Regions from separate parts of the Homo sapiens genome. Here region 1 is linked to region 2. Evidence: fine-mapped QTL for protein levels in blood plasma. A gene starts in region 2. The other region holds a variant in brackets. All regions are shown on one strand. Distances are between the middles of the regions.

The links. PIP is the chance, under the fine-mapping model, that this variant and not a neighbour inherited with it causes the effect. Protein levels are from antibody-based Olink assays in UK Biobank. Linkage for the fine-mapping came from a reference panel and not from the study's own genotypes, which makes the PIPs less certain.
Region 1: its variant is fine-mapped to the plasma level of the CD207 protein (UK Biobank, PIP above 0.99).

The regions. Positions count from the first base shown.
Region 1 is chr2:70,880,197-70,885,584 of GRCh38, forward strand. No RefSeq gene overlaps it. Among named protein-coding and RNA genes, the nearest start is that of LINC01143, 5.0 kb to the right of the region's middle. The variant C/T (reference allele first, on the strand shown) is at 2,719.
Region 2 is chr2:70,833,547-70,838,934 of GRCh38, forward strand. CD207 (CD207 molecule) reads right to left here and starts at 2,270. Exons shown (of 6, transcript NM_015717.5): 1 at 2,158-2,270; 2 at 1,945-2,061; 3 at 100-474. The coding sequence starts at 2,230.

The sequences.
Region 1 (5,388 bases), 47 kb after region 2:
GCCCAAAATCTCCTTAAGCTGATAAACAACTTCACCAAAGTCTCAGGATACAAAATCAATGTGCAAAAACCACAGGCATTCCTCTACACCATTAACAGACAAACAGAGAGCCAAATCATGAGTGAACTCCCATTCACAATTGCTGCAAAGAGAATAAAATTCCTAGGAATCCAACTTACAAGGGATGTGAAGGACCTCTTCAAGGAGAACTACAAACCACAGCTCAATGAAATAAAAGAGGACACAAACAAATGAAAGAATATTCCATGCTAATGGATAGGAAGAATCAATATCATGAAAATGGCCATACTACCCAAAGTAATTCATAGATTCAATGCCATCCCCATGAAGCTACAAATGACTTTCTTCAGGGAATTGGAAAAAACTGCTTTAAAGTTCTTATGGAACCAAAAAAGAGCCTGCATTGACAAGACAATCCTAAGCAAAAAGAACAAAGCTGGAGGCATCATGCTACCTGACTTTAAACTGCACTACAAGCCTACAGTAACCAAAACAGCACGGTACTGGTACCAAAACAGACATATAGACCAATGGAACAGAACAGAGCCCTTAGAAATAACACCACACATCTACAACTATTTGATCTTTGACAAAAACAAGAAATGGGGAAAGGATTCCCTATTTAATAAATGGTGCTGGGAAAACAGGTTAGCCATATGTAGAAAGCTGAAACTGGATCCCTTCCTTACACCTTACACAAAAATTAACTCAAGATGGAGTAAAGACTTAAATGTTAGACTTAAAATCATAAACACCCTAGAAGAAAACCTAGGCAATACCATTCAGGACATAGGCATGGGCAAGGACTTCATGACTAAAACACCAAAAGCAATGGCAACAAAAGCCAAAATAGACAAATGGGATCTGATTAAACTAAAGAGCTTCTGCACAGCAAAAGAAACTACCATCAGAGTGAACAGCCAACCTACAGAATGGGAGAAAATTTTTGCAATCTACCCATCTGACAAAGGGCTAATATCCAGAATCTACAAAGAACTCAAACAAATTTACAAGAAAAAAACAAACAATCCCATCAAAAAGTGGGCAAAGGACATGAACAGACACTTCTCAAAAGAAGACATCTATGCAACCAACAGACACATGAAAAAATGCTCGTCATCACTGGTCATTAGAGAAATGCAAATCAAAACCACAATGAGATACCATCTCATGCCAGTTAGAATGGCAATCATTAAAAAGTCAGGAAACAACAGATGCTGGAGAGGATGTGGAGAAATAGGAATGCTTTTATACTGTTGGTGGGAGTGTAAATTAGTTCAACCATTGTGGAAGACAGTGTGGCAATTCCTCAAGGATCTAGAACTAGAGTTACCATTTGACCCAGCGATCCCATTACTGAGTATATACCCAAAGGATTATAAATCATGCTGCTATAAAGACACATGCACACGTATGTTTATTGCAACACTATTCAACAGCAAAGACTTGGAACCAACCCAAATGTCCATCAATGATAGACTGGATTAAGAAAATGTGGCACATATACACCACAGAATACTATGCAGCCATAAAAAAAGGATGAGTTCATGTCCTTTGCAGGGACATGGATGAAGCTGGAAACCATCATTCTCAGCAAACTATCACAAGGACAGAAAACCAAACACTGCATTTTCTCACTCATAGGTGGGAATTGAACAACGAGATCACTTGGACACAGGGTGGGGAACATCACACACCGGGGCCTCTCAGGGGGTGGGGGGTTGGGGAAGGGATAGCATTAGAAGAAATACCTAATGTAAATGATGAGTTGATGGGTGCAGCAAACCAACATGGTACATGTATACCTATGTATCAAACCTGCATGTTATGCATATGTACCTAGAACTTAAAGTATAAAAAAGAAAAAAGAAGTGAAGCCTGAAGATGCGACTGAATTGCTGCAATCTCATGATAAAACTTGAATGAATGAGGAGTTGCTTCTTATGGTTGAGCAAAGAAAGTGGTTTCTTGAGATGGAATCTACTTCCAGTGAAGATGTTGTGAACATTATTTGCAATGGCAACAAAGGGTTTAGAATATTACATACACTTAGTTGATAAAGCAGCAGCAGAGTTTGAGAAAACTGATTCCAATTTTGAAAGAAGTTCTATCGTGGGTAAAATGCTGTCAAACAGCATCTCATGCTACAGAGAAATCTCTCATAAAAAAAAGAGTCAATTGATGTGGCAAAAAAAATACAATTTTTTATATATATATATAGTTGCTCTTCCCTTCCTGAAAATGTCATCCAAAAGCCATTAGGTAGGGCCAAGCAAGGTAAGCATCCCCATAAGGGAGAGTGTCTGCCATGGTGAATCCGCATGGGTGTGTTGGGATCCAAGCAGGGAGACATCCACACAGTGTCAGCATCAGATACCTCAGCCACAGTGGGGTGAGCAGAGTCTCCTCAGTGGGGGTGGGGCACAGAGAGGCAATGCAGCCACAGGAAACTCGTTACACACCAGGAAACTGATCAAATATACATACTGAGGAAAATAGGAGACAGATTTCTCACTGTTCGAGAAGGTAGCATAAATACAGAAAAGAAGAAAACTAGAAAAAGCTCTTCCAGCCTGGGCAATATAGGAGGACTCTGTCTCTACAAAAAATGGGAAATTAACTGGGCATGGTGGTGCACACCAGTAGTCCTGGCTCCTCAGGAGGCTGAGGTGAGAGGATCACTTGAGCCCAGGATTT[C/T]GAGGCTGCAGAGAGCTATGATTGCACCACTGCACTCCAACCTGTGCAACTAGAGGACTCTACCTTAAAAATATAAATAATAAATAATAAAACTCAATAATATAAAAACAAATAACCCAATGTGAAAAAGAGCAAAGGACATAAATAGATATTTCTTTACAGAAGATATACAAATGGCCAAGAAACACATGAAAAGATAGACAACATCATTAGTCATCAGGGAAATGCAAATAAGAACCACATTGAAATACAAAGTCACATCCACTAGGATGGCTATAATTGAAAAAACAGACAATAACAAGTGTTGCCAAGGATGTGGAACAATTGGAATTCTTATTCATTGCTAGGGGAAAATGTAAAATGGGACAGCCACTTTGGAAGACAGTGCGGTAGGTCCTCAAAAATTTAAAGATAGAATTAGTTGTTTGACCTAGCAATTCCACTCCTAGGTATGTACCCAAGAGATATGAAAATATATGGCCACCGAAAACTTCTCCAAGAACATTCACAGCAGGATGTATTCATAATAGCTAAACAGTGGAAACAACCCAAATGTCCATCAACTGACGAATAGATAAACTGTGGTATGTCCATACAATGGAATTATTCATCCATTAAAAATGAAGTACTGATTTATGCTACAATACGGATGAACCTTGAAAACATTATGGTAAGGGAAAGAAGTCAGTCACAAAAGACCATATATTGAACAATTCCATTTATATGATATGTTCAGAATAGGCAAATCTATAGAGACACAATGTAGATAGTTACCTAGGGCTGGCAGGGATGGGAGAATTGGGAGGTGAAAGCTAACAGGAATGGGATTTCTTTTGGGGATGATGAAAATGTTCTAAAATTGATTATAGGAGTGGTTGTACAACTCTGTGAATATACATATTAAAAAACATTACACAGTGTATTTTAAATAGGTGAAGTGTATGATACATGAATGATATCTCAATAAAGCTATTACCCCCAAAAAAGGACATTTGGGACAATTCACAAATTAAATAAATAATATAGTAACAAAATATAGCCTATTGAATACATTAGGAATCCATTTGTTGATATTGATCTAAACAATGCACAAAGAGCTTGATGAGGGGCAGGATATATAGATAGTCTAAAAGTTCCTCCCTGCAAAATACTTATTAAATGCAAAGGGAAAAATAACCTTACAGGGAGAAACTTAATTCTCACTCAAATGATCAAAGTTAACATCACCAGTACAGGATATATCAAAATCATGTACCATCTGATAGGACACAATGAGAAGAATTCAATATCACTTCTGTGATATTCCTGCCAAAGATGCATAGTCTGAATTGAATTGTGAGGAAACATGAGATAAATCCACACCGAGGGGCTTTCTACATAATAACTGGCCGTGAAAGTCAAAGACTGGAACTAACTGTCACAGATTGAAGGAGACTAAAGAGACGTGACAACTGACTGCAATACATCTTTACTGCATCCTTTTGATAATAAAGGACATTTGCAGAACCATTGACAAGGGGGTCTGAGGAGTCAATTGTGATAGCATTAATTTTCTAATTTTGATGATTGCATTGCGATTTCAAGGGAGAATGTCCTTGTTTGTTAGAAATACAAAATAAAGCATTATGTCAGCAACTTGAGTTCAAACAGGTAAGTGGAGGAGGGGGTTTCTTTGTAATGCTCTTGACAATTTCTCTGTAAGTTTCAGACTGTTCAAAATAAAACAAGGAACTCCAATATATACAATCTAACTAACTGGTCCATATTCTTCAAAAATATCTGTTACAAACATACACAAAAAAAGCTGATAAACTGTTTCCAGGTAAAGGAGGCTAACAAGAACTTAAAAACTAAATGCAATGGGTAATATTGAATTAAATCTGGGACCAGAAAAAAATAATAATATTATAAAGGATATTATTGGGACAATTGATGAAATTTGAATAAGATCTGAAGATTATATATCAATGTTAAGATTCCTAATTTTAATCACTGCAATGTGGCATGTAGGTGATGGCCCTCAGGAAATGCACGCGAAAGTATTTAATAGTAAAACGGCATGGTGTCTGCAACTTATCCTCAAATGCTTCCATAAAAATAATTTTAAAAGAGAATGATAATGCAATTGCAGCTTAAAGACAATACTAGAGTTTTGTAATATTCTTGCAACTTTCCCATAAATTTGAAATTGTTTTTAACAATTTTAAATAATATTTAAAATGAAATATAAAACTCAATACCATGTACATACAATAAAAACGCACACCAAAAAAAAGAGCTTATTTTGTGAGAATATATGACAACAAAGACTAACAGCAAATACAACCCAGTGGTTTGGAGGAGGGGGTTGTGAAATTCAGGGAGGAGAATGTGAGTGCGTGAGTGCTCAGTCTAAAAAGATTAAACACACAATTTTTTTTTTAAACGGAGCTTCACTCTTTTCGCCCAAGCTGGAGCGCAATGGTGCGATCTCGGCTCACTGCAACGTCCGCCTCCCGGGTTCAAGCGATTCTCCAGCCTCAGCCTCCGGAGTAGCTGGGATTACAGGCGCTAGCCACCACGCCCAGCTAATTTTTGTATTTTTAGTAGAAACGGGGTTTCACCATGTTGGCCAGGCTGGTGATCTCCTGACCTCAGGTGATCGGCCCACCTCGGCCCACCTCGGCCTCC
Region 2 (5,388 bases):
TCTCCTCCCCAACCCACCAGCCCAATGGCCTCAGGTCTGGGACAGGTAAGATCCCATGGGCCACTGGTCAGCTTCAATGTAATTTTCTGAGTCACTTACTTTGTCGTTTGAGCAACTTGCTCATATTCTCCAAGCTGCCCTGGAGTGCCCGGATCTTTGTATTTAAAGCACTGGCTTTCTCCAAATCACTTTTTAACTCTGGGATTTGGGCATTTAAGGTACTGACTTCTTCCCAACTTCTTGTTAAGATCTGGATCTGTGCGTTGGCCTTCTCCACACTGGTTTTTAACTTCAGGAACTGAGAACGCACATAACCCAGGCTCTCATTCACCATCTGGATCTGAACGCCAGCTGCCTCCATGCCGTCACTATTCTTTTTAATTTCAGAATCCAGGGTGCTGATGTTGTCCACACGACCTTTCAGCAACTGGACATTGGTCTTTACATCTGATATGGTGCCCATAAACCGGGGATCTGGGATTGAGAAAGTCAGGAGGTCAGCTGAGGGGAGTCCCAGGGACAGGAGTGGGGGTGTTGTCAGGTTGATCAAAGGAAGGGAAGGAATAGGCTGAAGCTTCCCAAAGAACCAAGACAGTCCAATGGGCCACCCCAACCCTCCAATCATTCATTAACGTACAACAAACGTGCAATGGGCACCTACCATGTGCCAGGAACACAGGTGGATACAGATAATGGGGAGATTGATAAAACACAGGCTCTCTGTGAAAAGATTTCACAGGCAAGCAGAAGCAGGAGTTAGAAACCATTCCTGAATTTTCTGAGTGTTCAGGGAACATTTGATAAAGGGTGCCCTCCATGAGCCCCACCACTGTCCCCAGAACTTGATTCCCCCTAGACCCCACCCCTTGGTTGCCATCCCTCTGTTTTCAGAAACCCCTGCAGTGGCCATCTGCTAGGACAGCACCACTCCCCCACATCTGTCCATGGGCCCCTCTGTGACCATGGGAAGAACCAGCCACTAATCTGGAAGTGGCTTCTCCAGAGAACATGGAAGAGGAGATTACAAAACTGTTTCTCCCCTTCCCTTGCCCCACCCACTTTCACATTCTGCTCAGGTCCCAGGCCTGGGTACCAGAGAGAGGATCAAAGATAAACCAAGAGGCTCAAAGGCGAGCCCTGAGGAAAATGCGATGTTAGAGGCCAGGGGTCTAGGATGGGGCAAGGGGGACTCTGCTCAGAGCCTACAAGTCTAAGCCCAAATATGTCCCGAGGCCACAGAGGGAGAAAAAAAAACCCAACAGCTTCTTGGGTCCCTTTGCTCTGCTTCCTGGAGCCCTGGCAGGAGGAAGAAGGCTCTGCCAGCAGCAAAGGCCATGAAGCCTGACAGAGCCAGAAAAGGAAGAAAGATAAACCATGCAACATCAAATGAGCAGGAAGCCTCCCTAGATGTGATCTTCACAGGGACAGGAGAATGAAGACAGCACCAACGAGTCCTGGGGAGAGGGGACTGAGTCATGGAGATCTGTTGGCTCGTTGGCCAGGCTCTCCATCTGGTGAGCTGGGGCCAATGATACATGAGGCTCGGTCCTTCACAGGGTCAGGAGACATTGCACTGTCAAGGACTGTCCACAAGGCTCTAGATCCAAGGAGCAGAGCTCAGATTGGTGGGGGGTGGACGGGGAGAAAATAGCACAGGATGTAAAACTAGATCAATGTTTCCTGAGGACAAAAGAATGTATCCTTGAGCACCAATGTGCAAATGCTAATCCCAATAATCTCCCAGAAATTGGGAGGGAAAGAGCATCAGCTCACCGTACTGGGGGCAGCACAGCCTGTTACTGCACATGGAAAGAGGAGGAAGGAGACAAATGAAAAAGCCACAGGCAGGAGAAACCCGGAGAGCAGGGAAGTGGTCTCGATCTGAAGGGAGCCGGCTGGCCACAGAGAGGGGCTAAGCCCAGACGATGAAACATGAGGACTTACAAAGGACGGCCTGCAGCAGGACGGAGGCGACCAGGACCAGCGTCAGGCAGATTAATGCAGCACGGACTGTGGGTGTTTTCCCCGGGACCAGAGATGGACCGGACTTGGGAGGAGGCTCTGTTGGAAGAAGAAGAAAATGTGTGTTGAAGGAGCAGCAAAGGGCAGGTTTGCACACAGAACACGGAGCAGGTTCTCAGCAGCGATGTGGCTTGCCTCGGGGCCAGAGGGAGATGTTCTGTTTGTCCACAGTGAAGTGCGCATCAGGGGCCTCCTTCTCCACAGTCATCCTGAGTGCTCACCCTTATCCTGGGAGCACAGGTGCTTCTGGCTGCCTGTCTCTCCAAGGGCTCTTATCTAGAGGAAACAGGAAGTCAGTCCCACAGCAGGTCACCATATCATCCCAACTTCCCTATTCCTGACTAGATACCTTGTCTGGCTTACTCCCATCCTCAGAAGTCTGAGCTTTCAGGAAGAGGCCATTTGTTGTCTTCTCTGGGGGTCTGTTACATGGATACATTAACCATCTTGTCCCAAACCTATCCCATTTCTCTTGTAAGACTCTCGTCATCCATCCACCCATCCATTCACCCCACAAATACAGGCTGAGTGCCTTCTAGGTACTGATGCTCTACCAGGCATAGGGCCACAGTGATGAATAACTCGCAGTCCTTGCACCAAGCAGCTCATAGTCTGGTAGGAAAGACAGACATGAGCAAATAAATTGCAAGGTGATGAGCACAAGAGACAAATATGCCCAGTTCAAAGAAGCATATGAAATGGAGTAATGGGAAAAAAAAAAATCCAGTAGAAAGATAAGCATATGCCAAAGGATGGAGCATAAGATAGCATGGAGTGCTTGGCAAATTGTAAATAGTTGCAATATTGCTGGAATGTAAAATATACATTCCAACAGGAAGGGGATGCACACGGGGTTGAAGAGGCACCTGGGGTCTGATGATGAAGATCCTTCTGATCATGTCAAGGAGCTGGACCTCTGGCTTGTGGGTGACATGGGGCCAATTAAGGACTTCAGGCAGGAGAGAGACAAGGACAGGGACACTGTAGAAACATCACTCTGATCCTGGTGAGGAGCAGACTGGTGGGGAGAAGCCTGGAAGCAGAGATACCAAATAGGCAACCATTGCAATAGAATATCCTGCTTCCTGTTATTAATGCATCTTGGCTGATACAATATCCCTTTATAATATGCAACTTGGAGATTCAAAGTGTAAACCTAAGACTTGGGTTCTCCTCCCTGCTTCCTGCACCATGTGAGATTTTCAAAAAAAGTAGGGGCGCTCAGCAACCTCAGACTAGGAATCGTTCTGTTTCTCTCTCCTCTCTCTCTGTCCGCACCTCCTCTCTCCTTCTTTGTAGTCCTAAATAGAGAGTTCCATATGTGCAAGAAGCTCAGGGCACAGAAGAGCTGATTTGGGCTCAATGAAGGACTAAATTTTCTCCTGGGCGGCTTCTCATGCTTTGAAGAAGTCTGCCAAATCTGAGAAATTTGGCACATGGCAGACTCTAGACAAATATTTCTTGGAATATAGGAAAGAGGAGAGGAAAGAGGGAGGGAAGGAAAGAAAAAAGAAGGAAATTGGTCCAGATAATTGGAGGATGGGTGAATGGATGAATGGATGGATAGAGGATGCATGGATGGATGTGTGAATGGTAAGTGACTTGGAGACTTGATAGCTGATCATGCCACTCAGACATTTACACAGTCTGGGGCCTGGGATCTGCCTTCTAGAAGCTGCTGCTTTTTTCCACTGTCTCCAGAAGTTCTCATTCATCTTCAATGCAAAAGCATAAGGGGAAGTGTGATTTACTCCTTACCCAGGAATGAACAAAAGCTCTGGCCGCAGGAAAAGAAAGCTGTCCTGGGCCTGCTGAGGCTGAGCCAGTGGAGCTGGATGACAGCCTGTATCAGGGACCAGGATTAGAGGTTAAGTTAACAGGGCCAAGGAAATATCTACCTATGCTTTCAGGGGCTACTGCCACCTTTGGTACTTGGGAGGATAGTGGCTGCACGCTCAGCCCATGCCTATGTGCAGCTCATTGTAGTTACAGGCCCTTGATGCTCTCTCTCCAGCTAACCGGGCCTCAGGCTGGAGTGGCTTCTCGGACTGGATGAGGGAACCCAGAGAGGACCCCACACTGGGAAGCTCTGGGAAGGAAACTGGGTAGCAAAGATGGTGTCTCATTTGTTCTGTCCCATCGCTTCCCTACCCAGCCTGTCTGTAACTTCCAGGCCTGCTGTCTGCTCTAAATTTTAACATTTGATAGTCCCGAATATGAGGGCCTGGCTCCACATCACTGCCTGCCTCTGGGTGTCCATGAAGATTCCTACTCTCTTCAGGTGGCTCGTGTGGTTGCAGAGCCTTGGTTCCATCAGGGCTTAGACAGGATTAGAATGTTCCACTTCTGGACTCTCATGCTTGGGACCCAGCCTAACTCCAGAATCATCTCTGCCCTTCTGCTCCTGGCTCCTGGCCCTTCATCCATAGCCTGTCCTATTTCTGGGCCTGGGGATAGAGAAGAATCCAAATTACTCAAGACCCTGGTAGAAGGGGCCTTGCAGGGGTCCATGTCTCCTCCTGAGGCATTTGCGGGAAAGAAGCCGCCACACAGTGTGCCTGGGAAGTGTCTTGTCCATTTCCGCTCGGTCAGGAAGTTGGGTTTTCTCTGCTGGTTTGTGGTATGAGTTATACTTTATAGAGCCCCCCAGATGCCCTCTCATTGGTCCCAGGAAAGGATGAGGAAGCCTTAGCGGCTGGGCCCATGGCATAGGAAGGGGCTGGAGCAGGGAGCATTTACTCCAAGTGATGGAAATGCAGGCTGAGGTAGGTAGAATAGCTACCGCTAGGCGAAAGGCTGTTCCAGCATGAGGAAGCTGAGCAAAGGCATGGAATCCTGGGCTGTGGGCCTTCTGGGGTTTCAGAGGAGGTGGATGTAAAAGTCCCAAACCATAGGAAGTTTCATTTCCCACTTTGTGGAGAGGGAGGGAGTCAGAAGCCATCTTCCTATTATCATGCTCATCTACAGGTCTTTCCTGAGCACCTCTCCTGTGCAAACCTCTGGATGCTCTATCTGGCACCTGGCCTGGCAGGAGAAAAGACAGAGAAGCAGGCAGGTGCCTTGGCCACACTTTCCAGTCAGGAAGGTGGGCAGTTCTCCCGGGCACTCAGACAATGCCCTGCTCTTCCAAACAGAAGAGGAACTCTGGCCAGACCTAGTGACCAAAAAAATCACCGCTGTGATGAGAACGGGAAGTCTGTGCTCATTTTTTTAGTTTCTCCTCTTCCTGTGTTCCTGGGGTTCTAATATTTTCTCTGGATAAGGATGGAGGAAGAAAACAGCTTGGTCACTTTTTCCCTTTCTCTGGTTGAGACTATGGTTGGGCCCAGCCTTATGCTTGGAGGAGAACCATGGGTTTAATCAACA